Regions from separate parts of the Homo sapiens genome. Here region 2 is linked to region 1. Evidence: fine-mapped expression QTL. Tissue or cell type: testis. Region 1 holds a variant in brackets; the other region holds the start of a gene. All regions are shown on one strand. Distances are between the middles of the regions.

Region 1 (2,923 bases):
AGTAGTTTGCTTCTTGCCAAAGTAACAGTATGAAGGAGAAAACATCATGGGATCATTCAAGAAACTGAGTAAGACAACTTTTTACAAAGAGAGAAGGGAAAGAAGAGGGAGAGGGAGGCAGAGAAAAAGGGAAGGAAGGAGGGAGGGAAGTGGGGAGAGAGATAAAAACACTGACATCTTTTGGAGGTGAAATGGAATGCTGTGCGCTATCTTAGAACACCTTGTGCTTTCCAGTGATCCCCACGACTTTGCTGGAAATGAGGAAAGTAGTTGTAGGAAGAATGGGTTCTAAGAAACAGGCTTTCTGCACTTAAGAGTTTCCTCTTAAGGCGAAGATGAACTGAGAGACAGGAATCTCTAGTTAAGATGGCCAACAGACATTAATTACCTTGGGTAACAGGTAATGGGTAAGAGACATTGATTATCAACATTGATTAAGCCAATGTTTAAATTTCTGAAAAAAAAAAGTGTGCATGTGTGTGTGCATGAGAGAGAGAGAGAGAGTCTAAAGCCTTCCTTGTATATTACGCACTCTGACTTGGTGGTTTCAGTGCCTAGAGACAAAGAAATCTCAAATCTGAAACCCAGCTCTACCACTTACCAGTTGTGTGACTTTGGGAAAGCTATTTAAGCTCATCTTTTTTTTTTATTGGTAAATGAAGATAAACTACAGCCTATTGATGAGGATTAAATGTGATAACATTCGTAACACATGGTGCTGGTACATAGTAATCACTCAATAAATAACTATAATCATAACTATCATCAACACTATTATTCCCCAAAAGATCTATCACTCCAAAAGAAGTTACAAATCATTGGTCTCAGTCATTGCCAAGCTCCATGCCAATTCTAGAAGTCTGTCTATCTTTCTACTCCAAGTTACCAACCTGCTCTCAGCACAATGTTCTTCCCACTGAGAAAAGGGAGAAGACAAAAACTGCATGCCCCTCCCCTCTCTGATCTTCTCCTTTGCACCCTTTCCTCAACACCCATACACACATATGCACAGCCCTGATCAAGGCCAGTGATTTCAAGGAACATTTATTATATGTCTATGCTAAGCACTGGTATCAAACACACAAGAAAGGTCCCTATAATGACGTGAGATCAGCCAAGACCATGACAGCCCTGGTCGATGGAAGTGATTCTCAAATTTGAGTGAGCATCAGTCACTGGGAAGGCTTGTGAAAACACACACTGCTAGGCTATATCCCCCAGAGTTCCTGAGTGAGGCCT[G/C]AGAATTTGCACTTCAAACAAGATACTGATGCTCTGGGTTGGGAGCCGCACAGTGAGAACCAGTGGCCTGGGATTAGGAATGTTTCTCGAGGCAACTTCACAGCCACTGCTGGGAGGTGGTGTCATAGTAATAGAACCCAGAGCCACTATATGAACTGTGTACAACTGGGGTCAAAGTCATCTGAGATTCTATTCGAGATGCTGGATATCCCCCAGGATCTTGAGACACTGGGGAAGGAAGGATAAAAGTAACTGATGTCTCAGCATTTATCCTGAAAGTTCCTAGAGAGCAGGGACTGTCTTAAGCTTCCCAAGACACACATTTCCTCCTCCCTGCTTCTAGAATCAGGATTTTTTTCACAGTAGACTTTCAGTTAATATTCACTGATTGAATCAGAGGAGGGACCTACCTGCAAACTGGGCCGATAAAGCAAACTGCAATCACTCAATAAATATTTATGGAGCACCAACTTTTTACAAAGAATTCAAAGGGTTCCAACCTCAACTATTATTTATTATTACCAATACTATTATGCATGAGGATCTAGCACAGTGCTTAACACATAGTGAATTCTCCATGAATGTAATTTCCCTTCTACCCCCTGATTACCAAAGTGGTATTCCAACCTCCACCGTCTCACTCGTTTCCTAGCCCTCTTCTCCTTGGGCAAATGATTTTTGCTAGTGCTTCTTTGAGATAATTATGAAATTTTTTCAGTTTCCTACCCCACACACATGACTGCAAATATGCCCATTTCTCTAAACATTGTTATCTTCCTCTCTGCTATTTTCAAAGAATAAATGTCCTCTAAAGTTAATCCTTCCACTTGTCCTTTGTTTAGCTGCCCTTAGGCACTTAGGTCCATTAATAGTGCTCCTCTTCTTTTTAAATCTTGAGCCTCCCTCTCTCCTCTGATTCTCTCACCTCATAAAAAAACAAAACAAAACACCACACATTCTTTAAAAAAAAAAAAAGAAAGAAAGAAAAAAAGCAAATACATCAACAAATGTCCCCTCTCTCTCCTCCATCTCCATGCAGCTCCTGCTCTCCCTCTCTCCCTCCCTTCCCAGGCAAATTCTTGGAAATCTAGGCCACCCCTTGCTGATTTTACTTCCTCCTTTCCTCACCCACAGCAGTCTGGCTGCCAGCCACCCTTCCAATGACTCTGTTCTTGTCAAGGTCACGCTGACCTCTGTATTTACAGATCCAGTGGTAGCTCCACACGCCTTACCTTACTTGACCTTCCTAATCCATTTGGCACTGGGGCCCACTGCTTCCTTGAAACTCCCTGTTCCATTGAATCTATCCTTCTTTCCAACTGTCTCCCACACACCACTCCTCAGATGTCCGATGAGCACTTCAAACTCTGTCAAAATGAACTTTGTCTTTCCATGCAAACCAAACTATCCTCTTCCATTTCTTATTCATGATGATGGGTACTGATATTCACCAGCTCACCTAAACCAGAAACTTTGAAGTCATCCTCAATTTGTCTTTCTCTACCCTCCATATATAATTGTTCACTGAATTCTATTATCTATATTCCTTTAACAGCTTTGGGATTCAACTGCATCTCTTCTTTCTACTACTGCTGCCTGTTTTCAGGATATCACCACACCCATCTGAATTATTTCAGTGGTCTCCTAAGTGGAAGGAACATCTTCAGCCTCTTCTTACACCAAA
Region 2 (2,923 bases), 270 kb after region 1:
GGTCAATGACAAACTGCATATACATTAGTGGTCCCATAAGATTATAACAGAGCTGCTAATACCCCTGAAGGCCTTCCAACGGGACAAGATGTGGAGGTGGAAGACAGCAATATTGATGATCCTTATCTTGTATAGGTCTGTGATGGTTAATACTGAGTGTCAACTTGATTGGGTTGAAGGATGCAAAGTATTGATCCTGAGTGTGTCTGTGAGGGTGTTGTCAAAGGAGATTAACATTTAAGTCAGTGGGCTGGGGAAGGCAAACCCACTCATAATCTGGGTGGACACCATCTAATCAGCTACCACTGAATATAAAGCAGGCAGAATAACGTGAAAAGACTAGACTGGCCTAGCCTCCCAGCCTGTATCTCTCTCCCGTGCTGGATGCTTCCTGCCCTTGAACATTGGACTCCCAAGTTCTTCAGTTTTGGGACTCAGACTGGCTCTTCTTGCTCCTCAGCCTGCAGACGGCGTATTGTGAAACCTTGTGACCTATTGTAGAACCTTGTGATCATGTGAGTTAATACTTAATAAAATTCCCTTTATATATCTCTCTCCTATTAGTTCTGTCCCTCTACAGAACCTGACTAATACAAGGCCTAAACTAATGTGTGTGTTTGTACCATAGTTTTTACCAAAAACTTTAAAAAGTAAAAAATTAAAAATAGAAAAAAGCTTATGAAATAAAGATATAAAGAAAGAAAATATTTTTGTATAGCTGTACAATGTGTATATGTTATGTTTTATGCTAAATGTTATTACAAAAGAATCAAAAAGTTAAAAAATTTTAAAGCTTGTAAAGTAAAAATTTAATAGTAAGCTATGGTTAACTTACTGAATAAAGAAAAGTATTTTTAATAAATTTAGTGTAGCCTAAGTGCACAGTGTTTATAATGTCTACAGTAGTGTACAGTAATGTCCCAGGCCTTCACATTCACTCACTACTCACTTACTGACTCACCCAGAGAAACTTTGAGTCCTGCAAGTTCCATTTATTGTAAGTACCCTATACAGGTGCACCATTTTTGAATCTTTTATACCATATTTTTACTGCACTTCTTCTATGTTTAGATATGTGTAGATACCCAAATACCATTGTGTTACAGACACCTAAAGTATTCAGTACAGTAACATGCTGCACAGGTATGTAGCCTAGGAGCAATAGGCTATACCATATAGCCTAAGTGTGGAGTAGGTTTATGTACACCACACCACACTACACCATCTGGGTTTATGTACATATGGTACACTCTGTGATGTTCACGCAATGATGAAATGGCCTAATGATGCATTTCTCTGAACATATCCCTGTTAAGGGACACATAACTGAATGTATAAGCTTGTACATATCATGTATAACTCATGTTTAGATAAAACAGGTTGGGGAGGAGAAAGAGAGAGAGAGAAAGAGAGAGAGAGAGAATACTGTAAATATTTAAAGTTTGTGCTTACCTGCCCCCAACTTGACTCTGAGCTTCTTAGACGTAGAAGCTTTGCCTCCCAAGTTTCTAACACAGTGTCTGACACATCATAAATGTTCAGTAAGTGTTTTCTGAATGTATTTTTCTATTGACTGGATGTTCACAAGTCCTTTCAAAATAAATGTGGGTTTTTTTAAGTGGTGTCAACAGATATACCTGCATGTTGTCTCAATTTTGTTCATGTATACAGATCTCTCTACTTCTTTTAATAAATAATAATTAATTGGTAGGGCAGAAAATATCTTAACCTCCACATTCCTAAGGTTTGTTTTATGAATTTTGACTTCTGACTTCTTTTTTGGCCAAAATGATTTCTCACATTTATATATAGTGTTAAAAAGTTCTATGTACAAATAAAGAACTAAGATTTAAGTATTTCTTCCTTATTTTTAGGTTTAAAAAGAATTATGTGTTTGAATGGTGCAATTTACCTGCTTTATGTTTTGGCTAATTATTTTCAGTGGAATCTATCATTTAAATTTTATTTATTATCTAAGACTTTAAAAGTGATTATAAAAAATTTGAAAAATAAATAAAATCACAATGGACCAATATAAAGATCCTGTAACTCTGGGACCAGCCCAAACTGGGCCCATGTTGTTAATAACAAAATGTTGAGTTACCTTGTAGTAACAGAGCCAAAAACTGCAAGTCATGAAGCCCAGGCATGCACAACAGGAAAAGCTTTGACCTCTAACAATACCCAAAACAAATGATTTCTCTCCTCAAAGCCAACAAGACTGGAACATGACTGGAACCATAATACCAGAACTCTTTCTGAAGCAAGGGGTCTGTTGACCCAGAAGATCTAGAGCTAAAATTCACTTCAATATACCTTACCATAACTGGTCAAATTTGAACCCCTGCAATCAGATTCTACAAATCTACATTCCTAAATCTTTTCTCTTGCTCTCCAAGCCCATACACTTGCTCCAGACCCCAGATTGAGGAAACAGATTTGAGCTCACTCCTGACTCCTTGTTGACTCATTTTGCAATAAAGTCTTTCTTTTCTCAAAAGCTAGTGCTATAGTTATTGGTTTCTGTGTACATCAGGTAGTGAACCCATTTGCTTGATAACAATTCTGAAAACAAGGAAAGATATGAGTGTATTTATGAAAATAAATACAATTATTTTCATAAAATACTATATCATGAATTAATATTCAATAAAATTACAAAAATTATGGATTCTGGAAGTACAGAAAGAAACCTGAATCAAAAACAATGAAATACTGAGACAAAAGAGAACTAGAAAAATTTTAAAGCTATAATGAAGGAAATAATGTCATATAAATATCTTCTACATTACTACAAGTAGAAATTAAAATAGCAACACCACTGTAGACAAAAAAAATCACTTGTAAGGTTAGAAATGCTTGAGAAATTATCCAACAATATGAAGTAAATGAATCCAAAGGAGGAAAATGATAGATATAAAAA

What was found. PIP is the estimated chance that this variant, and not a neighbour inherited with it, causes the effect. A credible set is the group of variants that fine-mapping cannot tell apart.
Region 2: LINC02456 starts here. The variant in region 1 is the best candidate, but not a certain one, in a credible set for the expression of LINC02456 in testis (GTEx, PIP 0.80).

The regions. Positions count from the first base shown.
Region 1 is chr12:102,548,243-102,551,165 of GRCh38, reverse strand. All of the region lies in intron 11 of LINC02456 (long intergenic non-protein coding RNA 2456), which reads right to left. Among named protein-coding and RNA genes, the nearest start is that of IGF1, 69 kb to the right of the region's middle. The variant G/C (reference allele first, on the strand shown) is at 1,240.
Region 2 is chr12:102,278,214-102,281,136 of GRCh38, reverse strand. It overlaps LINC02456 (long intergenic non-protein coding RNA 2456), which reads right to left and starts at 1,563. Exons shown (of 13, transcript XR_007063427.1): 1 at 1,453-1,563.